Regions from separate parts of the Homo sapiens genome. Here regions 1, 2, 4, 5 and 6 are each reported to be linked to region 3. The links are microRNA targets in miRTarBase. Many come from high-throughput screens and were not tested one by one. Region 3 holds a microRNA gene; each other region holds the end of a gene's coding sequence.

Region 1 (4,092 bases), not on the chromosome of region 3:
GATCGTTCAAAAATGTCCCCAGATGTGGGCATCTGGGCGATTTATTGGAGTGCTGCTGGCTATTGGCCCTTGATAGGCTTCCCTGGAACTCCCACCCAGCAAGAGCCAGCTCTCCACCGAGTGGGGGTTTACCTGGATCGTGGGACTGGGAATGTCTCCTTCTACAGCGCTGTGGACGGAGTGCACCTGCACACCTTTTCTTGTTCTTCTGTCTCACGCCTCCGGCCATTTTTTTGGTTGAGTCCATTAGCATCTTTAGTCATTCCACCAGTGACTGATAGGAAATGAGGCTTTTCTTCCCCTGACCAAAACTCCTTCCCTGTAGTCCAGCTGAGGGACACACATCCCTGGGCCCTCTTCTGCCCTTCATGTCTCTATCCTGGATGGTCCATCTTCTGGGTCTCCCTAACGGTACCGTTTGGTATCTGCCCTTTGTGTGCTTCACAAGAGGCAGTCCCATGGGAGGTGGGTCTGGCCAATGGAGATGGGACAGGAAATTTTCCAAGACGCTTTTGGGAAATCTTTTTGTAGCTTTTAAAGAGATGTGCGGGGAAGACATATGGATGTTAGCAGCCATATTGGAACTGAGAACACAGGAATGGTGGAAAGGTAGAAGAAACAGAGTTTTTGTTGCCGTTGTGAAATTGTTGAAATTTCCTTCATGCCAAGCTTCTTGTTATATGAGATAATTACGCCCTTATTGTATAAGACAATTTTAGTTGTATTTGGTTACTTGCAGCCTGAAGTACCGTAACTGCACTAAAGGGACGTAGTGTGAACATCCCGCAGTATAGGCTTAAGTCACTTTTGTGAAATTTGACAAAGGCATAGAATCTTTTTCTATCCAGTCAGGCATTGCCTATTCTTTCCAGTAACTACTGATTCCCCCACTTTTCTGTCTTAGAAAATTGTGGGAATCCCCCCTCACTCTGCCTATGTTGCACTCTCTCTCTTCCCAACCATAACTCTGCCCTCAGCTATTAACTGTGCTGTGTATTTATCAAGTTGGTATGTTGTATGTACAGTGTTATTCATGTCATCATGAGAATGTTGAACGCTTGTTAAATATCTTTTGCTAGCCTCTTCATATGCTGTTGCATATGACTCTCATCACAACTCAGTGAGATGGAAAGTCAAATCCTATTTGTACAAATGAGAAAACTGAACTCTTTAGAGTAACTAGCTCAGTATTGGCCAGCTGGTAAATGGCAGTGTTGGGATTAAAATCCAGTTCTTATCTACTCTCCCTTTATTCAGAAGCATTTATTGGATGTTGATCTTTGTTTCAGGTTTTGATTTTGTTACTTTTTTATACTGTGTATATTTTCCTCAGTCTACCCTTCTGCTCTAGATTGTCTGGACTCAGGAGATTGTGGCAGTTACTGGATAGTTATTTTTAAGATAATGATTGCTTTTCTCTGTTTATATAAGTCATGTGTACTTATTGTAGAAAGTTTGTAAGATGCAAAAAGTATAAAAATTAAAGTTATGCACTACTAACATTTCAATATATTTTCTCCCAGATTTTCAGTAAAGACTTTCAGGCAGTGATTTAACGAGGATTTTATTTTAACTTATATTTTAGTTTAAGGGGAACACGTGCAGGTTTGTTCTATAGATCAATTACATGTCACAGGGGTTTGGTGTACATATTATTTCATTACCCAGGTAATAAGCATAGTACCCAATAGATACTTTTTTGATACCCCACCCTCCTCCACCCTCTACCCTCAAGTAGTCCCTGGTGTCTGTTGTTCCCTTTTTTGTGTCCATGGGTACTCAATGTTTAGCTCTCCCTTATACGTGAGAACATGTGATGTTTGGTTTTCTGTTCATGTGTTGGTTTGCTTAGGGTAATGGCCTCCAGCTCCATCCATGTTGCTGCAAAGACATGATCTCATTCTTTTTTTATGGCTGCATAGTATTCCATGGTGTATATGTACTATGTTTTCTTTATCCAGTCTACTGTTGATGGGCATTTAGGTTGATTCCATGTCTTTGCTATTGTGAATAGTGCTGCAATGAATATATACATGCATATGTCTCTATGGTTGAATGATGTCTTTGGGTATTGGGCATATACCGAATAATGGGATTGCTGGGTTGAATGGTGGTAGTGAGGATTCTTACACAACTTACAGCATCTTCCCTAACTCCTCCTCCCCTCCTCCCCTTCTTATACATCAGCCATCTTGGCTTGTCTTCCTATTCAGCCTGAGCAGCCCCCTCATTCAACAGTTTCTACTGAGTTCTCAACTTCCCAGGATATTTGCTGTTATAGGTTGAATTATGTTCCCCAAAAACATATGTTGAAGAGCTACCTGTGAAAATGACCTTATTTGGAAATAGGATATTTGCAGATGTAAACAAGATAAGGTCATTTGGGTGGGCTCTAACCCAATATGACTGGTGTCCTTATAAAAAGAAGGAAACTTATGCATATGTTCACACACTCATGCCCACACACACACAGAAAAATGCCAGATGGAAACAACGTGAAAGAGGCTCTGGAAGATGGAGGCAGAGATTGGATTGGAGTTATGCTGTCACAAGCCAAGGAACCTGGGGCTACCAGAAGCTGGGGGAAGCCAGGAAGAATCTTCCCCTAGAAGCTTTGAAGGGAGCATGGCCCCATCAACACTTTGGTTTCTGATTTCTAACTGCCAAAACTGAGGTTAGACAGTAAATTTCCATTGTTTTAAGCCACCCAGTTTGTTATGGCCACCTTAGGAAATGATGACTACACTTGCCCTTCAGGACGTCCTTCAGTGCCTGTCTTACTAATAGCTAATCCTTTGGAAACTCATCAGTACCTTCCCTCCTCTCTTCCTTCTGGCTATTGAAAGGTTGATTGATTCTGCTATAAATCCTTGCTCTCTGCCTTCAAGTGGGCCCTTTGAGCTGCATGGTAAACTTTTTTTATCACTTGACTTGTTTTAACGTCTTTGGTGGCAATGATTCCAAACTTTTCCTTTTAAGCCTTCATGAGTCCCCCTTCATACGATTGCAAAGAACTTGCATCTTCAACAGAGAAAAAATTCTTTTCCCCTACCCTTCTTATTCTTCACAATTCTTTGTCTCTGTGCTTGAGTCTTGATATTGACCCCTCTGGTCTCATCAGGTATGGGATGGGACCTAGGTGTTCATTTTTGTTTAAAAAGCCAACCAAGTCCCTCTCCCTCTCCCTGTCCCTCTCCCTCTCCCTCTCCCCACGGTCTCCCTCTCCCCACGTTCTCCCTCTCCCTCTCTTTCCACGGTCTCCCTCTGATGCCGAGCCGAAGCTGGACTGTACTGCTGCCATCTCGGCTCACTGCAACCTCCCTGCCTGATTCTCCTGCCTCAGCCTGCCGAGTGCCTGCGATTGCAGGCGCGCGCCGCCACGCCTGATTGGTTTTCGTATTTTTTTGGTGGAGACGGGGTTTCGCTGTGTTGGCCGGGCTGGTCTCCAGCTCCTAACCGCGAGTGATCTGCCAGCCTTGGCCTCCGGAGGTGCCAGGATTGCAGACGGGTCTGGTTCACTCAGTGCTCAATGGTGCCCAGGCTGGAGTGCAGTGGCGTGATCTCGGCTCGCTACAACCTCCACCTCCCAGCTGCCTGCCTTGGCCTCCCAAAGTGCCCAGAGTGCAGCCTCTGCCCGGCCGCCACCCTGTCTAGGAAGTGAGGAGCGTCTCTGCCTGGCCGCCCATCGTCTGGGATGTGAGGAGCCCCTCTGCCTGGCTGCCCAGTCTGGAAAGTGAGGAGCGCCTCTTCCCGGCCACCATCCCATCTAGGAAGCGAGGAGCGTCTCTGTCCAGCCGCCCATCGTCTGAGATGTGGGGAGCGCCTTTGCCCCGCCACCCCGTCTGGGATGTGAGGAGCGCCTCTGCCCAGCCACGACCCCGTCTGGGAGGTGAGGAGCGTCTCTGCCCGGCCGCCCCATCTGAGAAGGGAGGAGACCCTCCGCCCAGCAGCCGCCCCGTCTGAGAAGTGAGGAGCCCCTCCGCCCGGCAGCCACCCCGTCTGGGAAGTGAGGAGCTTCTCCGCCCGGCAGCCGACCCGTCCGGGAGGGAGGTGGGGGGGTCAGCCCCCCGCCCAGCCAGCCGCCCCGTCCGG
Region 2 (4,098 bases), not on the chromosome of region 3:
ACTCTGACTAGATTAAAAGCCAGTTAGTTGTACACTTTAAAAGTGTGAATTTTATCGTATGTGAATTATATCTCAATAAAGCTGTTAGGGGAATAAAACCAAAACTTTCCCATGGCTTCCTAAATTTTCCAGTGTGATACTGCCCCCACCACCTCTCTGACTTCGTCAAATGATAAATACATATTATGGGCCTACTATGTGCTAAGTACTGTTTTAGGCATTTGGGGTATATCAGTGAACAGACAAGAATCCACCCCCCGTGGAGATTATATTCTAGCAGAGAGATGGGACAAAAACGACACATATAATAAATAACTTAATATGGTAGAAGGTGATAAATGACACAGAAAAACATAAAGCAAAGTAAGGGGAACCAGGAGTGCCAGTGTTAGGATGGAGATGTAGATTCTGTTTTAAATAGGGTGGTCAGAATAGCCCTGATGTGGCCCTTCTCTAGGCTTCAGCTACACTCCTTTCTGTCCCTCACATATGGCAAACTCATTCTCTCTTTAGGGGTTTTGGCTAACTCAAGACTGGTTCCTTTGTGTCATTCAGATTTCAGCTTTAAAATTTCCACAGAGGCCTCCTCTTGATTATCCAATCTAAGAGCTACCCAGTCACTTGCATCATCTCTCTGTTGATTCCTTTTATATCACTCATTGAATTAACTCATTCAACAAATGCAAATGCTTCATACATTCCAAGCATTTCTAGGGATATAGCAATGAACAAGAATCAAAATTCCTGCCCTCGTGTAACCTATAATCTGGTAGAGAGGGAACAAATAGAGCTATAGTGTTAGGTATTGGGATGAGGAAGCAAGGAGCTGCTCTTTCCTATAAGGATGGTCATAGAAAGACTCAAGCTGGTCATAGCAGATGCCTGAAGGAAATAAGCAGGGATGGGGGGCTGGCCATGGGGACTGGAGGGAATGTCAAGTAAAGAGCAACTTGAGATTCAGGCCTCATGGCTTGGAACATAATTGTAGTGAAAAAAGAGACAAAAAGGTAAACTCACTTTTTCCCCAGGGGAAAGTGAGTCTGTTTAAAGCCATATTGAATTTGAAGTATTAGTGGAGCATCCCAGTAGGAACATTCAGGAGGCAGGTGAAAAGACGGGACTGAAACCTGGGATTTTAGGGCTAGCTGGAGATTTAGGAATCATTTATGGAAAAGTGAAAGATAAGTTTGTAAGAAGAGATGAAATTTACAAAAGACCGAAGGAGCACTAAAGACTAAGTCTTAGGGGATTCAGCTGGGTGTAGTGGCTCATGCCTATTGTAATCCCAGCAACTCAGGAGGCTGAGGCGGGAGGATCGCTGGAGCCCAGGTGTTTGAGGCTTCAGTGAGCTACGATTGCATCACTGCACTCCAGCCTGGGTGACAGGGTAAGACCCCATCTTAAAAATTTTTTAAAGTCTCAGGGGATTCAAAAAATATTTTAGGAATGTAATAAAACATTTCTTGCTGGTATTTTCCCTAAGTCTCCTGTCCATTATTCAGCCCCATTATAATGCATGTGGTCTTGTCTGTCTTGCTGACTGCCACAATTTCAAGTGCATAAGAGTAACAGGAACATAGTAGTGCTTGGGAAATATATAAGATGAATGAATAAATTGTTTGCCTTCCTCTTTAGGCATTTTTAGCTAAGAAAATAACCAACGTCTATAGTTCCTTTTAATGAACACTCAGGATCTCTCAGGATTTCTGCCTCTGGTGCATTCCTTTTAGTGTCTCTACACGTGTTTAATGTTACATTCAGTACCTGCAGTTTATTTCTAATGACTTCACTGCCTAATATTTATAGATCATTAAAATATAAACAAAGTAGGCCGGGCATGGTGGCTCAAGCCTGTAATCCCAGCACTTTGGGAGGCCGAGGCGAGCAGATCACGAGGTCAAGATTTCGAGACCAGCCTGGCCAACATGGTGAAACCCCATCTCTAGTAAAAATGCAAAAATTAGCGGGGTGTGGTGGTGCGTGCCTATAATCCCAGCTACTCAGGAGGCTGAGGCAGGAGAATCGCTTGAAGCCAAGAGGCAAAGGTTGCAGTAAGCCAAGATTGTGCCACTGCACTCTAGCCTGGGTGACAGAGTGAGCTATCAAAAAAAAAATTATACACACACACACACACAAAAAGTAATCCAAAAAAGACAAAGTGGATACCAACATTCTTGCACTGAAGACTACAAAAAGCATTAGACCTAACTTTCAGCTGACAGGCTGTAGACTCTGCTCCTGATGGGACAGGTGAAATAAATCTGGGTGCGTTCGGACTAGATGACTAAGGCAGCATTACTGTCCTTTTCCAACTGCCTGGCTTGTGCAATTCCTTCTAAATAGCACTCATTTCCTTAAGCTCTGGGATGCTGAGCAGTATTTTGTCATGTTTTCCTCTCACACTGAAATAAAAGAACAGCTCCTATTAAGACTAGAACTGTCGAGTTGTGCAGAGATGAAAACAGAGAAAAGTGTTTCTTTTCTTATTTGGTAAATATTTTGCTTTTGAGGCATCAGTAACTAATCACAGCTGTTTCCTTTAGTTACAAATGGATTCAATCAGGTAAAATTTCAAATGAAACACAAAACCACTAGAGTCATTCCATTATACAGTACAATGGTAGTGTTAAGCCTTGTGAAATATATGTATTAAGTATGCATGAATTCATCAAATCAAACAAAGAAGCTAATGGGTCTCTGATTAGTGTTCTAACTCTATTATGGTGATACTTCCATCTTACTCTGACTCATCTAAAACATGAGAACAAAATGCTATTAAGTTTATTATACCATCTGTTATCTGCCATCATTCTGGTTAAGTAACAAAAACTGAATTTTGGCTAGAAGTTCTCTCTTGAAAATCAAGGGCAAAAAAGAGCTGCTGTTAAACTGAGATATTTCAATTTTAACTTCAGTAACTTGGAATCCTTTATGTCAAAACTAAAACAAAAACCAAATCCCTGTTTATTCTCATCTAGGATTCAAAAAAAATCTTGTTTCCAATGGGATTGTTACATGGATATTAACGAACAATGGATATTTCAATCGAGAATCAAGTATTCAGAAAAATTATACACAAAAATATTTCTATTGCTTAATAGAAAACATATTTTTATTCCGTACTTTAAAAATATAGACTTTCTAGCAACTTATAAATTTCTATTATAATAATAAATTGATACTTTGAGCCAAGAAAACAATATAACCAAAAATTCATTTGTTCCCTTTGTTTAGGGGTGTTTTACATTTATGCATAATTTTGCTTTTATAAAAGATGATTGTTACAATCAGGTATACAACTACTTGGTTATGTCTAAGTTCTGTCTCTTAAAATATGTTCTTTTAGAGAATTCATTTAATCATCTTATTCTTTTCTTCAATTTTCTCCAAACAGTGGTAGAAGTACTATTTGATAGACAGAATAAAGAAAATTGTTTTTGGCCACACCCAGATCATACTGATATCTACAGCATAGTCCTGGCTACAGGGGAGCTCAACTCTAACTCGTGAAGCGGGCCTGGTTTAGAAAGTAACAATGAGGTAGTAACTCATGATAGTGCTAGCTGTTATCAAAAATTAACAACTTTAGGTATTTTTGTTTTGGGTTTTTGCGGTTTAGGTACATCCAAAATTTCTTCATAGTCTGCACTCATTCCCTTTGCCCAGCGACCAACTGTGACCATTCGCTCTGTAAAGGAATAGAAAAATCAGAATGTTAGAAAAACAGTAATCAAATGCATCCACTCAGATTGTTATTGGTTTGGGAAAGGAACTCATTTTGATATGAATAATCACAAGGAGGGAAGACTCCATCACTAAAGGAAAGTGAGCAATTCTGTAATTGATTATAACCCTTGATTTCAGAGTACCACAGGCAATTTCTCATCCCAATTAGGGAAATGCAGCAACTACTTTGCAATGCACGAACTGATGAGAAAGCTCTTTCATTCTTTCCCAGAGTTCATCATTACAGAGTCAATGAATTCCAAGAGTCTGTAAACAGCAAGGCTTATGAAGCATCAGTTTTAAATGCACAAGATTCCACCTGTGAAATTATACAACATCTGCTTGTCAGTCTTGTCATTTGGGAAGTGGCAA
Region 3 (4,044 bases):
TAGAAAAGTATAATGATACACTCTGTTGTAAACATCCTTTTATATTTAGTCTACAGTATCCATTTCAACAGGCCTGTTGCTTAATTATAAAAGTAGTGATGTGAAGAAAAGGGAGGACCTGGACCCAAAGCACACATGTACACTCTAAACTCAATGCTAGCATTTAGCTAGATAACTAGGTCAGCAAGTTTCATCATTGCTTTGGTAAACTGTAACAACATGGTGTCAGAGATTATGTAATTTTTGAAGCATTCTTCCTGCCCCACCTCCACCCTATTTTCATCTCCAATTTTATATGAGTGAACTTACAGTAGGCCCTGGGGGTCCCTGAGGTCCAGTTTCACCATTCTTTCCAGGAGGACCCTAAAAACAAGAACAGTTAGGGAAGTAGAAATAATACAGATTACAGAGAGAAGTCAGAAGGTTGGAGATGAACGCATCTATTAGAAGGCTAGAAATAAATTGAGGAAAGCTACGTACCTGAGGGCCAGGTCCTCCAGGGCCACCTCGTTCTCCATTCTTACCAGGAGCACCCTAAAGAAGAAGTGGTCGGTATTTACTAATCCTCAAAGGGCAATAACTAATCATATTATTGTCTCATATATATATGTCTCATATATATATGTCTCATATATATATGTCTCATATATATATGTCTCATATATATATGTCTCATATATATATATACACACACACACATACATATTTTTGAGACTGAGTCTTGCTCTGTCGCCCAGGCTGGAGTGCAGTGGCGCAATCTTGGCTCACTGTAGCCTCTGCCCCCCGGGTTCTAGTGATTCTCTTGCCTCAGCCTCCTGGGTAGCTAGGATTACAGGCACATGCCACCATGCCTGGCTAATTTTTGTATTTTTAGTGGAGACAGGGTTTCACCATGTTGGCAAGGCTGGCCTAGAACTCCTGACCTCAGGTGATCTGCCTGCCTTGGCCTCCCAGAGTGCTGGGATTACAGGCGTGAGCCAGCGCACCCAGCCTGTTTCATATTTTTTATCTGCCTGCTCCATACACACACATACAACCATAACCAATTATATATTTAGCTCCCTTCCTACATGCAATTTGATTTTCATATACTCCTCCATGCTTTGAAGAGGAGACTGAGTTTTGACCATTTCTTTACTCCATATGGAAAATAAAAGCCTTCCAGTCAAATATTTATTGAAGAAATTAATGAAGGAACTCACATCATTTCCTTTAGGACCGGGGAAGCCCATGACACCAGGCTGACCTCGGGGACCAGATGGCCCAGGAGGACCTGGTCGACCACTTTCTCCTTGACTTCCCTAATAAGAAAAAATTACATTAATAAAGGTTTGATAAAGAGAAGATTAAAGCATGCTATATATATAGTATGTGTGTGTGTGTGTGTGTGTGTATATATATAGATATACATATACATATATATATATACACACACACACACACACACACTCAAGGATAGGCCAACATATACATTCCATTTTAACTGGCCTTTTAAAATGAGATTTTAAAAATGTACATACGGGAGGCCCTGGTTTCCCATCACTTCCTGGTCCTCCTGGACTTCCGGGCATGCCCTGAAGTAAAGAAGTCAGTTGTTAGGTGATTTAAAATGAAATAATAAAAAATTACTACATACACTATTTGTATGATTTTGATATTTTCACTTACATGTGAAGCCTCAGATTTGCACATCTTTTTTCCTGTCTATAAAGTATCTAAGGCAAGTGTTCTATCTTCTCTTCTCCTTGAACTATCTCGGCTTAAGTTTACTTAAAAGAATTTTGTTTTGTTTGGTGCCTTACAAAATATGTAATCTGATTGATTTAAGTTGCTTTTGATCTGTCTTCATTTGTCTTGCCTTTCTTCTGTCTAAATTAAAGTGTCATTCAAACAAATGTTTCTCTGTACCCTCATTCCTGGACCTCCAGGGACGCCATCTCTGCCAGGTTCTCCAGCAGCTCCTCTGGGCCCTGCAGGGCCTGGAGCACCACGCTCTCCAGCAGGACCCTAAGTAGTGAAAGAAATTTTAAAAAAATTAAAATAGCCTTCACTAACCTAGATAGCAACAATATTTTGGTTACAAAGAGAGGACGTCATTTGAACTTTTAAAAAGGGTTCGTGTGTTGCTGAAACATTTATACATAAAATCAGTTATCTTAGCTTGGATTGCCATATTGAAAAAATTTTAAAGCAACTTTGTGAACATCACATGCTTAATAAAACAGTATTCACTGTGCTTAAAAATATAATTATGTGCAGCTAAAATCAAATATCTTAATGCTATGAAATCATATTTGATGTAACCTTAGAGTTTTCAAAGACTTTTCAGGCATTTTAGTTTACTGTACTCTTGCAACGATGCTCAGATAAATGCTTTCCAATTAACAGATAAGTAAAGGATTCTCATAGAGGGTAAGTAAGTGGCTTTAGTTACAAAGCCAGGAAAGTTGTTGAACAGAGGATGCATTATATTAGGAATTTTTCTTAACTCTAATATATATTCTTCAGATATTTAGGTTTTCATGAATGAGAAATTGTATACAAGAACTGCCCATTTGTGGTGCTAGCATTTAGGAACATAGAAACTAAAGTTATCTACCTTTTCTCCTGGGATGCCATTTGGTCCAGCAGGTCCTCGGAACCCAGGGGCACCCTGAAAATAATGAAAGACAAGTATTTCAGTCCAAAGGATTTCAATTCTTTTTCATAATTCTTGAGTGGCAAATATTTTTATGTCATAGAATGCTTTAAACAATATTTTCACTGAACACTCAACTTAAGAAAAATTGGCTGTCTCACCCTGAAGGTAGTTTTATTTAGATGACAGTGATGCTGCTTTTCTTTTAGATGCCCCATGGAAAACGTACCCTTTCTCCTGCAGCTCCTGGAAGCCCATTTGCACCAGGTTCTCCAGGTGATCCATCCTTGCCATCTTCGCCTTTAGCTCCTGGAACACCTGGAATACCAGCCTCACCCTGAAAAAAAAAAAAGATGGTAAAATAAAGAAATTATGACTGAATTTAGTTCAAAGTTTTTACCTGTTTACTTTCTAATTATGTTGCATTTTTTCAAGAAATAACCAGATCTGTTGCAGTAAAACTTACGCGTTCACCACGTGGTCCGGGCTCTCCTTTGGCACCATTCTTACCAGGCTCACCCTAAAGTATAACAAAGTCTTGGTTGAAACACAGGGAGGATTCGACTAACAAATCATCACCAGTAACACATAATTCAGTTATAAGTTATAAGACAAGAGTGAAGTCAATATAAATTCAACTGAACAGGAGCAAAATTTTGCTATTAATTTTTTGTTGATGGAATTAAACTATACCTTTCAGTCAACAGAGAAAAAACAAGGCAACTTACTGCACCACCTCGCAGTCCAGGAGCACCATTAGCACCGGCTGGTCCTGGAGGACCCCGGGCTCCCATCAGTCCAGGAGCTCCAGGAATGCCAGCGGGACCCTAAGAACAAACCAAAGACACTATATTAGCCGAACTTGAATGTTCTTTTATGAATATCTCACTTAAATATCACAAATCTATTGTCATGCAAAATGCAAAAGAAGCCAGTAATGTGTGGATGAGATAAGGCTGAGGAGTGGGGACAGCTTACCATTTCGCCTTTACCACCAGGACTACCATTAATCCCAGGAGGGCCCTAAGTATACAAAAAACAGATAATGTATTAATAGTAATGCAAATAGTTCGTATATATTTGAAGTTGTTTGTGTGAAAATAAATGTATCGATGAGTGTTATGCTTTGTAGAGATTAAGTGAATCCTCCAACTATAACACAACATATGAAATGTGGTCAAAAGAATCATCATTATCTAAATAAATTAGAGATAATATGTACTTCGTATAAATTATTAAATGATACATAAATAGAAGAGATTTTGAATTTGGTTCTTCTCTGAATTTTTATGATTGGTGATTAGCTTGGGGCACATTCTTGAAAGCATCAGAAAACTAGTCTATCCTCTATTCTTTTATATAAACATAAAAAATCATGAATTCTGGAATAGTGCAACAGTCAAAAA
Region 4 (4,093 bases), not on the chromosome of region 3:
TGAACATATTATAATAGTTGCATAAGCTTCTGAATATTAGGACTACAAGCAATATTAACGAGTACATTTATCTTGCCTCAAAAGAACACATTTTTTCAAAAAGAAGAAATGATACTGGGCTTCTAAAAGAACCAAACGTGAGAAATTTGCCTAAACTCTTTCCATCTTGTAGCCTTCTCTCTGCTCATCTGCTTTGGTCTTCTCTGCAATCCACCATTGTTTAGTCCACACCATGAATGGAGCATTTCTTCCCACAGCTCCCATGCACATCTGCTACAGGAGTAACTAGCCACATGTCACTTGGTCCTCTGGCCTAGCCTGGGTCAGGTGTCCATCCCAGACCCAGTCCATGTGGTGAGGCTGCAGGGCCATGTGATGTGGGCATGTATTGGAAGAGAAGAGGTCACTAATGCTAAATGTGGTACAGCGAGGGCAGAGAGACCTTGAAAGGCATTCACTATATTCTCAGAGGCAGAGCCCTTATAACAGACGCTGTTGATGCCCCATCCCATATTCTCTTGGCCTATCACAGTTTGCCAATAGCTGAGGCACAGTTTTCTGCAAGGATGACAACCTTTCCACCTCCAGTGAGTATCTCCCTTCTCCTTTGCCTGTGAGCTTTATCACACCCGTGATAGTTGCTTTTCTGCAGTTACATAGCCCAATCTTAAAGTGCATTAGAATTAACACTCCCAGGCCAACCTTCAACCAATTCAAGCAAAGGAGGATGGGAAGTGGAGATAAAGTCCCAGGCCCTGTAGTCCTTAGGAAGATTCTGAGCTATATCACACATTTCATATGGTTTCTTAGAGAGTCCTAAAAGGGATTCAGCCAAGTTATCCACATGGTAACTGACTCATGAGTGAACCCTTTATCCCATTTGTCATGTAATTGGCTTTTTTTCATTTCTCAATTTGTTTCTGCACTTGTGTTTCCTGGAATCACTTCCCAAATCAGTGTGGTGAGCTGAATAGTGCTCCCCGCACCCACCCTTTGAGCTATATTCACTATGAAAGTTATGAAAAGAATGTATAACACAGTAAAATGAATTTTACACAGAATTAAGGTTATGGACCTTAAAATAGAGAGATTATTCTAAATTGTCTGGGTGATCTCAGTTTAATCATAGGAGTCTTTAAAAGTAAAAGGCAGACTGAGCGTGGTGGCTCATGCCTATAATCCCAGCACTTTGGGAGACCAAGGTGGGCAGATTGCTTGAGCTCAGGAGTTTGAGACCAGCCTGGGCAACATGGCAAGACCCTGTCTCTACAAGAAAATACCCAGGCATGGTGATGTGGCTCTGTGCTCCCAGCTGCTTGAGAAGCTAAGATGGGTGGATTGCTTGAGCCCAGGGGACAATGTGGTGAGCTGAGATCACGCCACTGCACTTCAGCCTGGGTGACAGAGCGAGTCCTTGTCAAAGAAGAAAAAAAAAAAAAAAAGAAAGGAAGGAAAAAAAGGAGAAGGTAAAAGAATCAGAGAGACACAATGGAGAAAAAGACCTAGGAGATGAGCCTCAATGCGCTGTTGCTGCTTTGAAGATACAGGAAGGGAGCTAGGAGCCAGAGTGTGGCAGCCTCTAGAAGTGGGTACAGCCCTTAGCTAAAAACCAGGGAACAACTGGGACGTCAGTCCTATAAATGAAAGGAACTGATTCTGCCAATAGTCTGAATAAGCAAGGAAACAGATTCTTCCTTAGAGACTCCAGAAAGGAATCCAGCCTGCAGACACCTTGATTCTAGCCTGGTGAGATCCCTGTGGGACTTCTGACTTCTCACCTACAGAACAGTGAGATAATAAATTTGTGTTGCTTTAAGTTCATGAATTTCTGAAGCCAGGCGCGGTGGCTCATACCTGTAATCCCAGCACTTTGGGAGGCCGAGGTGGGTGGATCACAAGGTCAGTAGATCGAGACCATCCTGGACAACATGGTGAAACCTCGTCTGCACTGAAAACACAAAAAATTAGCCAGGCGTGGTGGCACGCACCTGTAGTCCCAGCTACTCGGAAGGCTGAGGCAGGAGAATCACTTCAACCTGGGAGGTGGAGGTTGCAGTGAGCTGAGATCGTGCCACTGTACTCCAGCCTGGGAGTACAGTGGCACAATCCAATCTCAAAAAAAAAAAAATGTCTATACATTTCTGGTAATTCAGATGGCAACAACAGAAAATGCATCCAATAAGGGTCTTGTGAAAATGCTGCAGTGAGGTAAACTGAGACTGTGGTGAGTACAGTGGGTGTGCAGACTACTGTGCTGAGTAGACACCACAGTCTAGAAAAAGCCAAGCTGAGGAGTAAGCATTATTAACACATTTATTGAACAACTAGAACTTGACAACCACTTGCCAAGTAGAGGGGATACAGTGGTGAGCAATAATAGTGATGATAATGAGGAGCAGTTTTCCCTAGCAGGCAGCAGTTGAAAGGAATATGGGTTTAACATCCACCAATGACCAGGAGTGGACAGACCTATTTCCAGGAGACTGAGTCCATAGTGGGATTAAAAACATCCCTGTAATTCTTTTAGCTTCCTTGATCCAAATTTCCTATATCACAGAGAATCTCTAGGGTATTTGCTCTGCCTGGAAACCTTGATTGAAGGAAGGCTGGCTCTGGCTGCACAATCACTTATCACATTTGTTGGGTGGGAACATATCTGTGCCCCATGATTTATCAAGTGTGGCCTCTAGTCTCTTTCCAAGTCACATGTCATGTTGGTACTATGAGGTTATTCTCTCAACCAAGACACTCTGCAGAGCTAATCCAAGGAGTGCTGGGTCTAAGTCTCTGATATCAGCTGGGAAAGAGTCAATAGGGATGTCAACTCCACAAGCACTTAAAATGATCTCTACCCTGCAGCTGTCCTGGGAAGGAAACCTCAGGGCTACATGTGGGCTCTTCCTGTGGGAAAAAAAATCAGGCTGGAAAAGAACAGGCAATTAGCCAGGGACTAAGGCTGAACATCTCCCAACTGCACAAATTACTGTATGAGTTATGTAAGTTACTTCATGTTGCCCTGCCTCAGCTTCCATACTTGCAAAATATGACTACCCGACAGGGTGTTGTGAGGATTAAAGGAGTGACATCCACCAAAGCTTATAACACAGCACTAAGAACATTTTAAATTCTCTGTTAATGTTAGTTATTGCTGTTTAGATCCCAGCTCTGCTGTTCACTTGTCATGTCTACTTTGTAAAGTTAATTCACCTTTCTGCACCCCAGTTTCCTTATCTGTATAAGGGGACAATAAGGTGGTACGAAACTCAAAACAACTGTCATATGGAATAATGGAATGAATATCAGTAAAGTGCTTCAGTGCGTGCCTGTAGCTTATGGTTCTGATTGGTTGTTGCAGAAGGGGAGACCTCAGCTCCAGGGTGGGCAGGGAGAAGCAGAGATGTTACTTCAGCCTGAGGCTCCCCACTTTCATTAGCTAAGCCCGGGGTCAGTGGTGTCTCCAGGGAATGATCAGGCACTAGGTCAGGATCGGGGGAACTCTCTACTTCTTTTGGTATTGGGCAAATGGTCAGGGCAGTGGGCTCCAAGGTCAAAATTCTGAAAACAGGATATAGAGGCTCAGAGAAAGAGGCGTGCGGAAAGGTGTAGATATGAGATCCATCTGTGGCATTATAGAACGAGATCTCTCCAGTCTCATAGTCCAGGAAGATCCCCACTTTCCTAGGAGGCTCAGGAAGTTTCAGGTTGGTTCTGGGCTCAGTGAGAGCCCGATACTTATTCCCATCAGTCAGGCCCATAGTCCAGTATCCGTTCTCCGGTGTCATTTTGACCCAACCTTTTTTCCTCTCCACGTTCTTACTACATACCCCAATATGCCACTCTTTTCTGTCCCCCACTTCCACCTCCCAGTAATGTCTCCCTGATGTGAAGTTTTCACAGCCAAGGACACAGTAACGCCATTCAAATCTCTCAGGGTTGTCTGGCAGATCCCGCGGCTCTTCAGCACGCTGCACACTCCTCTGGTCCTCAGAAACAAGGAGGATGGCGTTTGCCGTGTCTGGATCCAGAATCACATCCGCTGCAGAGAGTTTGAGGAGGTGTCCATGGGGTCAGCCATTTTTCCTGGATTTCAGAG
Region 5 (4,083 bases), not on the chromosome of region 3:
CAATTTCCTTTCTCCTCCTCCCTTTTTCATTAACTGCGTCCACCCCTTTATGCCCTATAATTACCTTTAGAATTTCTGTCAGTGCCAGATTATGGCATTATGCAAATTTTTATATGCAATATAGCCTAGTGGTTAGGTACATGGTCACAAGAGTCAGGTTACCTGGGGATTAAATTCTGGTTCTACCACTTATCAGGTGTGGACTTAACCTCTCTGTAGCTCAGTATCTCCATTTATGAGAATGAGAATAAAGCCTGTTCTCCAGGGTCGCTGAAATGATCAGACGAATTAGTAAATGTACAGTGCTTAGAATAATGCCCGGCACATTGGAGGTGCTTTACAAATGAACTGTTTTTATATCATCACGGTCATCGTTTCCACTAAGTGATGTACAACCTAAAGGACAATTAACATATAATCCACATTTGAATCTTGTTCCCTTCTGTCTTCTCTCTCCTTTAGCAGATGAGATCACCAAAGAGACTACAGAGAAAACAAAAGATAGCCCCACGAAGCATGTTCAGCATTCAGGTGATCAGCAGGACTGTCTCCAGCACGGAGCTGACACTGTTCAGCTGCCTCAACTGGTAGACGCTCCCAAGAAGTCAGAGGCAGCTGTCGGGGCGGAGGTGTCCATGACCTCCCCAGGACAGAGCAAAAACTTCTCCCTCAAGAACACAAACGTTTTACCCCCTATTGTATGACCTTTGCTGAGGGTATGTCCTGCTCCTTTCCACCAGTGATTTGTATTAAGACAGCACTTATATTGTACAATACTTCAGACTGTTTTTTTTAAATACATAAAACTTTATGTTAAAAAACTCTATTAACATGGCCAATTGGCATGACTCCTCTTATGAGGGATGGGGGAGGATGTCCTTGCACTTAAACTCATTCCATATGCATCTGTGTGTGTAGAGGGGGCGGGTAGTTTTGAACTCTCAGTGTTACAGCATCATTAATGGAACTCCAAACAAAAGAAATTTTTTTTCTTCTTGCCCATGACTGCCAACCTATGTCAGGATTTTTGTTTGAAAATGATAGAAGCTGAATTCAAAAGCAGTTTAAACAACGGAAGACACTTATTGACTTACATAATTGGGGCATCAGAAAAGGTAGATGTAGTTTCAGGCGCAGCAGGATCCAGGAATTCAAATGAGGTTGTAGGGCTCAGACTCCCTCTTCATCTATTAGCCTTGCTTCTCACTATGGTTAACTTCATCCTGATGTCAGGCCCTGCTCAGAAGTTAACCGCCAACATCCAGTCAAAAAGATACAGGCTTCCTTGCTAACAGGGAGTCTCCAAAATGATTGTGACACAGAAATTGTGACTGGGATACTGGGATGCTTGGCCAGTCTGGGCCCCAAGCCCACAGTGATGGTGAAGGCACTGTGACTGATGCTTCTCTAGACTAGAGCAAGGGATGGAAGGTTTCCCAAAGGAAGGGAAGCTAAGTAAACAAGCAGGACATGTTCACTCATCTACCATACGCCAAATCTAAGTATGTCTTCTTACTTCCCTTTCTAATCCTCATCTACACAAATACATAATTTTTATGTGGTTGTCATAGGACAGATAGAATTTTACGTGAAACTTAAGATCATAACATCAGAAACAACATAGAGTATATAAAAATAGTTTTCTTTTTTGCTTGCCATTTGGAATAACCTCCCCCCAGTACAGTTTTCATTTTAATTGTTGCATAATATTTTATGAAGGGGGACACCAGGTCATTGAAGCAATGGATTTGGATGTAATCTCCCAGGAAAAATCTTGAGTTAGAATAGCAGAGGGTTGAGAGAAAGTCCCAGGAAAGACAAATATATAAGGAGTTGCCAGAGTTGAGGAGGTCCTCCAAGAGACCCAGAGATACAGAAAGAAAATTAGAAGCCAATGGAGAAGTTTCTAGACAGAAAGAGGAGTCAAGATAGAAAATTCCACAGAAAATCCAGGGTAAGAACAGAAAATATTTCTTAAGTGGGGTGATATGGACATTAAGTCAGAGCAGTGTTAGAACAGGTAACTTATCCCAGTTTCTATAGCCAGAAAGCCACAAAACCAGCAATAGAACTCAGATCCTTGGGAACATTCTTGAAACGATCTTCAACCATGGATGAAGTTGGAGGTGGACACTGTTCTGCAGCTCTACAGAGAATAAGAAGCCAGGTCTTCAACATTGTAATCAGGATGATTTTGATTGAATAATTCAAAAGTATCTTCTGATTTTCATGGTTATAAAAGGTTAAAATGAATTCTTGATAAACTGTGGCTTATTTTAAGAGAATAGTTTAAATAAGGAAGCTGCAAATTGTGACACAGACAGGGGACAGGCTGAGTGACCTTCAGCAGGGCCTCTCAGTCCAGCTCTGTTGTACCTCTACCATTCATCTGGTTATTTTTTTCACTCCTGGGATTTCTTTACCTGATTGTCCCATTGGATCCCAAGGAAACAAAACATGTGGAGCCCTTTAATTGTAATTTTTTAATTTTACGTCCTTGCTTGCATGGACAGGAAAATCTGCAAAATCCAGTGGCTAGCACAAGATGACATGTCTTTGATGAGAGTGGTGTGAAGATAATGTTAGGGCTCTGTGAGGATATAGAGGGGGAGATGTGGAAGTGAGAAAGAAGGGCGGGGATAAGGGCCGGCCCCACTGCCAGAAGAGGGGAAAGCAGTGGGGTTGCCGATTACAGGTTCACCATCAGCCAGTCCAGCAGCTGCAGCGGTGTGACATTCCCCACCGCCTCATTCAGCTGGCGCTCCTTCTCATAGCGCAGCACCGACTGCAGAACCTCGCCCACACTGCATCCTTTGTCCACAGCAGCAGCTGAGAGCTGAAGTAGCTGTGAAAGGAAAGAAAACACCAGTGGTGAGGCACAGCATCTCATGGCAGGCCAGATGGAGCCTGCCAAGGCTGGAGCAGAGAGGCCAGGCAGACCTTGGGAAACTGCAACACAGACTTTAAAGTTTGCTGGCCTGTTTAACAGAAGGAGGTTGGTGACTTCATTCTTAGTTTAAAGAAGAGATGTTAACACCCACCTGCCCATGATCTTGCTCTCTAAGAATTCTAAGGTTCTAAGCTCACCCTAATATCATAAAAGTCTCCATCATTGTCCTAAGACCAACAGGGCAGGATGGAAAATGTCCAGTGGACAAATGTGGATGCTGCTTTCCATGCCCCATAGACCACAGAATCCTAAAATGTTAGAGCAAAAAGGCACCTCAGAGATCAATTCAACCCTCATGAAAATGTTTCCCAGAGAAGTACAGAGATTTGTCAGAATTAACTGCTAGTAATTAGCAGAACCAAAATTCATTGCAGGTATTGGAGCCTATCTTTAGCTCTTTTTCCAAGTACAAAATGAGAAAGTTAAGCAACCATTCTAATATAAATACAACGCTGTCATTTATCTGGAATCCTAAGGGCAACAAACTCTCTCAAGTAATCAGATTTTTATTTTGTTCATTTTGCTCTTGACTTTTTACAACAAAGGGCAGGCAAATAAACACACCAAATATTGAGAGCCTCTTCAGAAAGAGAAATATCCATGTGAGAAACTGAAACAGAAGAACCAAATGGAAATTTTAGAACTAAAACTTACCTACAAAATATAAAATAAAAACCTGTCAGATGGGCTAAATAGCAGAATGTAAATGAGAGAGGAAAGTCAGTAAACTTGAAGGTAGATCAATAAAAATTATCCATGCTGAACAACATATGAAATTGATTAAACTTATTTCAAAAAACATTTAAAAAATAAACAGAGCCCAAGGACTTGTGGGCAATACCAAAAACTTTAACATTTATGTTATTAGAATACCAAAGAAGAGAAAAGCGATGATGCAAAACATATCTGAAGAAATAATAGATGAGAGTATTCCTAATTTGCCAAAAAGTTTTAAACCTATACATTCAAAAAGCTCAGGGTACCTAAAATAAAATAAACCCAAACCCAAACCCAAAGAAATTAACTCCAAGACCTACCATAACTAAATCACTGAAAATTAAAGAAAAAGAAAAAAATCTTAAAAGCATCCAGAGAAAACCATTTATAGGGGAACTGCAAGTCAAATGACAGCC
Region 6 (4,081 bases), not on the chromosome of region 3:
GGAGTGAAAGGGTGCTGTAGACCAGACAGGGGAGGTGGTGAGAAGGTACAAAAACAACGCTCTTTCAGAAAGCCAGTATTCTTATAAAAGTATTGGTCTTTTATTTAATATACTAGTAATTATAAAACGTTTATAATCACAACATGAAGAAAAAAAGTTCATAGACCGTAACTTGTATAATTTCAGCTTGTACATAATTGACTAAGTAAACTTACCTTGTCATGTGTTTGAAGCTGTGGCTTGCCAGGATCAGTTTATTAGGACATTTGTTTTTTATTTTATCTAACAAATTACCCTCTAGTGTGCTCCTCTTTAGTTTTTTTCTGAGAAATTTCCCATTTATGTCTTTTTAAATTTAACCAGAGCAAACTGGACTTTAATCACAAAACTTCCAAGAGGTCAAAACCATGTGAAAAGTTGATTGCTTTGGCCTTTTCATGAGTTAGCATACCAGCTGTAGGTTTCCATGTCACATTCCTACCAAGTCTCTGATCTGTTGTATGATTTTCCCTTTGTCTTCATATTCCTCCAAAAGCTAGGTAATGAGGAACAGCAAGAAAAACTGCTCAGGGAGTGGCTGGACTGCTGTGTGACGGAGGGGGGAGTTCTGGTTGCCATGCAGAAGAGTTCTCGGCGGCGAAATCACCCCCTGGTCACTCAGATGGTAGAAAAATGGCTTGACCGCTACCGACAGATCCGGCCGTGTACATCCCTGTCTGATGGAGAGGAAGATGAGGATGATGAAGATGAATGAAAAAAAAAATCAAACAGCAGAAGACCAAGGCATCAGATCTGTAATGACCCTAAAGTTAGTGTGGTGCTCCAAGCAGAGTCGACATCATGGAATGAACCAAATCTGGCAGGATCTGCTCGGGGAAGTGTTTTCCTGGACCACACACACCTTATGGAGATAATGCCTCTGCTGCGTGAGGAGACAGAGAACTTTAGTTGGACTACAGTTTGTAAAAAAAACTAATTTTATTAAGACAGAACTTTTTTTCCTTCCAAATTGTAAATCTGTCTATAAATGTAACGCATGTGGTTGTGTAAGACATTGTTTAATAGGAAAAGTTGTACCAGCATCTTCATATTATTGAGAAAATTTTTTCCAGCATGGGCACTTAGAAAAAGCACATGGCAAATGGCTCTTTGTTCCTTTCAGATATTATTTCAGTAGAACCTGGCATTCTACTTTCACCTTAAAAGATCCATCTAAGTCTCAGATCTGGAAACGTTTTGTACCGATTATCCACAGCAAAACAAAAATAAGCTTTTATTTTATTAATAATTTCGTTCCTCTTGTGCCCAATCAAATCTTTTAGGAACAAACTGCAAGAAAAGCTAAGAATGTTTTAGAGTGAACTAAATACAGACATTGCTTACTTGTTTTGAAGAGGGTTTTGGTTTTGGTTATTGTGTCTTTAAGTTTTCTGATATGCCCCCTTTCAATATTTAGATATTTATTTGTTGGGAAGAATACCTTAAAATGAGGGTTCTTATTCCAGATTCTGGGCAGTGGTCTGTGAGTAGTTTTTTTCCTGGATGAAAAGGGAGCAAGCCCACTTGTCACTAAATGAATTGTGTGAAATGTGCTCACTTGGACTCCATCAACAATGTGCTGCTCCCAGATTGCCATGCCAGAGGGTCTTCGGATTCTTCCTTCTATCACCTCTGCTCTAAGCAAATCTTGTTAGAAGGGCATGCCTTTGCTTAGGCAGATTGGGAATACCAATTCACTACAGAATAAAGATTTTAAAAATGCAATAAGGTGGCAAATGCATTGTATGAAGAATTTCTCAGTGTTTAGTCTGAGAATTTTTGCATGTTGGTTAATTGTGGCCATTCTTTAATTTAAAGTTAAAACTATAATCTTAGGTAGAAAAACTTTTTTATAAGAAGTATTATTTGACCACTTCAGGTATACATTCAATACTGGGTAAAAATTTCAGACCTATCTCAGGAACACAGAAATATTTGGTGTCCTGATAAGCACTTTCTAGACTATTGATGTGGCCAGGAATTTGGAAAGACGACACACGCACGCGCGCGCGCGCACACACACACACACACACACACACACACACAGTTTTTTCCTTCCCTGTGATGAAAAAGGCTGTGAAAACCTTAAAGTATTTGCTTGCTTCTTGTTTTGTTTAGTTGATAATGAAATGTGTACAACCTCAAATTTGCTGCCAGAATACTAAAAATAGAAAAATACCCACAAAACTGTCATGTCTTTAGTTCTTTCCCCCCGAAAACTCAGTAAAAAGGTGTTCCCAGGATGAAAAGATCATTTTTTGCTGCATGCTAAATCTTGCAGGAAAAATGATTTTTTAGTACGATTCTGTAGAAATGAATCTTTGATATAATGTAAATGCTGCTGTTTGTTTCAAGTGGTGAATGTGTTGTTAAAAATTGGCTGTTTGCTTTCATTTTGGCCAATAAGTAATCAAGTTTGTAGAAAATGTTAGCATTCTGACTACTTAGCATCTGTAGTAATTTCTCTATGTATAGGGATAATTTTTTAGTGGGCAGAGATCCTGTTCTAGTTGCCTGTTAAGCAAAATCTGCCCTCCCAATTGAAAAAGCCAAAGAGAATTGTTAGAGGGAAAAGCATGTAGCCATTGCAGTCTGCATTGCAGCCAGCGTTGTCCAGAGTACACGCTCAGCACTTAGCTTCTACTGTGTGTTGTGGTCTGGTGAGTGTTGTTTCCCCTGAGCGCTCTATTATTTATTTATTTATTATCAATCAGTGACCCTGACCACATAGTGTGATAGGTGCAGCATTCTTCCCTGTGGGAAAGAATTAAAGATGGTTCCATTTCCTAGGCTACAGACAGGAATGGGGCTCTAAATGGTTTTCATAGACTGGCTGTTAAAGGCCAAAAATTTTGGTAAATCAATGCTATATTATGCTCTTGAACTATTAAAACAGCCATAATTATTGTCCCAAGATAGAATATAGTCCTTTTTCAAAGATGATTATACGTGGCTAGGTGACAGACATTAATGACTGACTCTGGAGAGTAAGTCATACCTGCACTCTGTGGACTTGATGGTTCTTTTTCTAGAGCAAACAGAGCGTGGCATTTTGTTTTGACTTGTTCTTCCTTGGGGTCAAATTTATATATATATATATAAATTTTTGTTTGGGCGACCAAGATCTAATAATTAAAACCCAGGTGGACCATGGATTCAGACCTGCCTTTTTATGTTTTTGACTCTTAGGTTCATCGTGTCCCAGACTTCTTCACATATTCGTGAAGGTAAGATATTCTGTGTGCGCTTGGCCTCCTTTTCACGCATATTTCATTGCCTCTTTGATGAGTGGTTACGAAGACGTTAAACTACCTTTTTGTTCCCTGGGGTAATAGGTCAGTAACTATGAGCGCCGTCTCTCTCCATGTGAGCTTGTGTTAATAGACACTTTTATGGTAGAGTTGGGATGGGGCCACCACCTTAAAATGAGTGAGCAGACAAGGCCAGGCAAGCCAAAGGCTTTAAGACACCATGATTTTCTTGTTTTGTTTTAATTGGGAAGGGAAGTATAAGGAAGAGCTCAGAGGGAGTTTCATACCTGGAATTGTTGGACTTAATTGACACTTGCAAATACTTTTAGTATAAAGGTTTAATTCTATTTAAAAAGAAGATCCATTAAATCAAGCTCTTAACTCATGGGACTATTTGCAACACTTCTTTGTAAATATCATTTTGTTTGTTAGGTTATTGGCAAAACAGTTTCAAGGTTCACTTCCCTCCCTTGAACCAGGTCCAGGTCATTTTGCTTTGGGGTAGATTAAAGTCAGAACTCTAAAAGTTGAGCAACTTTGTTTTTTTTTGAATTGATTTAGCACTAACCCACCATTGCATCTTAAGGATGGCATGACGTGATAATGATGGACTTGTGTGAGGTTTTGATTTTTCAATTAAACTTTTTGTTATCACAGGTAATTAATTGTCAGCGGTCTTGAGTCTGGTTATGGAACCCTGTAGTAACAAGAGCTGGAAATTGGCTAATTGACAATGCAATTGCCTTAAACATCTCAAGTAGAGAACATTTACATTAGTGAGATGTACTTGA

Evidence for each region. The annotated mature microRNA hsa-miR-3606-3p reads AAAAUUUCUUUCACUACUUAG and lies in region 3 at 2,008-2,028, opposite strand. An mRNA with a match to its seed (bases 2 to 7 or 8) in the 3' UTR can be bound and repressed. Matches are read on the target gene's strand: a 7mer-m8 pairs with bases 2 to 8, a 7mer-A1 pairs with bases 2 to 7 and ends in A, and an 8mer does both.
Region 1: miRTarBase lists TRIM4 as a target of hsa-miR-3606-3p. Seed matches in the 3' UTR shown: 7mer-m8 at 494-500, 7mer-m8 at 650-656 and 7mer-m8 at 812-818.
Region 2: the mRNA of ZCCHC9 is a reported target of hsa-miR-3606-3p. Seed matches in the 3' UTR shown: 8mer at 3,153-3,160.
Region 4: the mRNA of BTN3A3 is a reported target of hsa-miR-3606-3p. Seed matches in the 3' UTR shown: 7mer-m8 at 2,540-2,546.
Region 5: miRTarBase lists DYRK4 as a target of hsa-miR-3606-3p. The part of its 3' UTR that is shown has no 7-base or 8-base seed match.
Region 6: miRTarBase lists ZRANB1 as a target of hsa-miR-3606-3p. Seed matches in the 3' UTR shown: 7mer-A1 at 3,120-3,126.

Annotation. Positions count from the first base shown.
Region 1 is chr7:99,888,359-99,892,450 of GRCh38, reverse strand. It overlaps TRIM4 (tripartite motif containing 4), which reads left to right. Exons shown (of 6, transcript NM_033091.3): 6 at 1-2,048. The coding sequence ends at 288. Among named protein-coding and RNA genes, the nearest start is that of OR2AE1, 13 kb to the right of the region's middle.
Region 2 is chr5:81,312,134-81,316,231 of GRCh38, reverse strand. It overlaps ZCCHC9 (zinc finger CCHC-type containing 9), which reads right to left. Exons shown (of 6, transcript NM_001131035.2): 6 at 2,935-3,688. The coding sequence ends at 3,570. It also overlaps a transcript of ACOT12 not described here. Among named protein-coding and RNA genes, the nearest start is that of ZCCHC9, 13 kb to the right of the region's middle.
Region 3 is chr2:188,993,655-188,997,698 of GRCh38, reverse strand. MIR3606 (microRNA 3606) reads right to left here and starts at 2,069; the gene lies at 2,007-2,069. COL3A1 (collagen type III alpha 1 chain) reads right to left here. Exons shown (of 51, transcript NM_000090.4): 17 at 3,617-3,661; 18 at 3,367-3,465; 19 at 3,105-3,158; 20 at 2,868-2,975; 21 at 2,600-2,653; 22 at 1,909-2,007; 23 at 1,521-1,574; 24 at 1,203-1,301; 25 at 481-534; 26 at 310-363.
Region 4 is chr6:26,451,618-26,455,710 of GRCh38, reverse strand. It overlaps BTN3A3 (butyrophilin subfamily 3 member A3), which reads right to left. Exons shown (of 11, transcript NM_006994.5): 11 at 2,296-4,036. The coding sequence ends at 3,300. Among named protein-coding and RNA genes, the nearest start is that of BTN2A1, 4.3 kb to the left of the region's middle.
Region 5 is chr12:4,613,050-4,617,132 of GRCh38, forward strand. DYRK4 (dual specificity tyrosine phosphorylation regulated kinase 4) reads left to right here. Exons shown (of 15, transcript NM_001394779.1): 15 at 466-826. The coding sequence ends at 704. It overlaps AKAP3 (A-kinase anchoring protein 3), which reads right to left. Exons shown (of 6, transcript NM_001278309.2): 6 at 2,469-2,845. The coding sequence ends at 2,690. Among named protein-coding and RNA genes, the nearest start is that of AKAP3, 34 kb to the right of the region's middle.
Region 6 is chr10:124,984,239-124,988,319 of GRCh38, forward strand. It overlaps ZRANB1 (zinc finger RANBP2-type containing 1), which reads left to right. Exons shown (of 9, transcript NM_017580.3): 9 at 536-3,951. The coding sequence ends at 754. CTBP2 (C-terminal binding protein 2) reads right to left here. Exons shown (of 11, transcript NM_001329.4): 11 at 79-4,081. Among named protein-coding and RNA genes, the nearest start is that of ZRANB1, 44 kb to the left of the region's middle.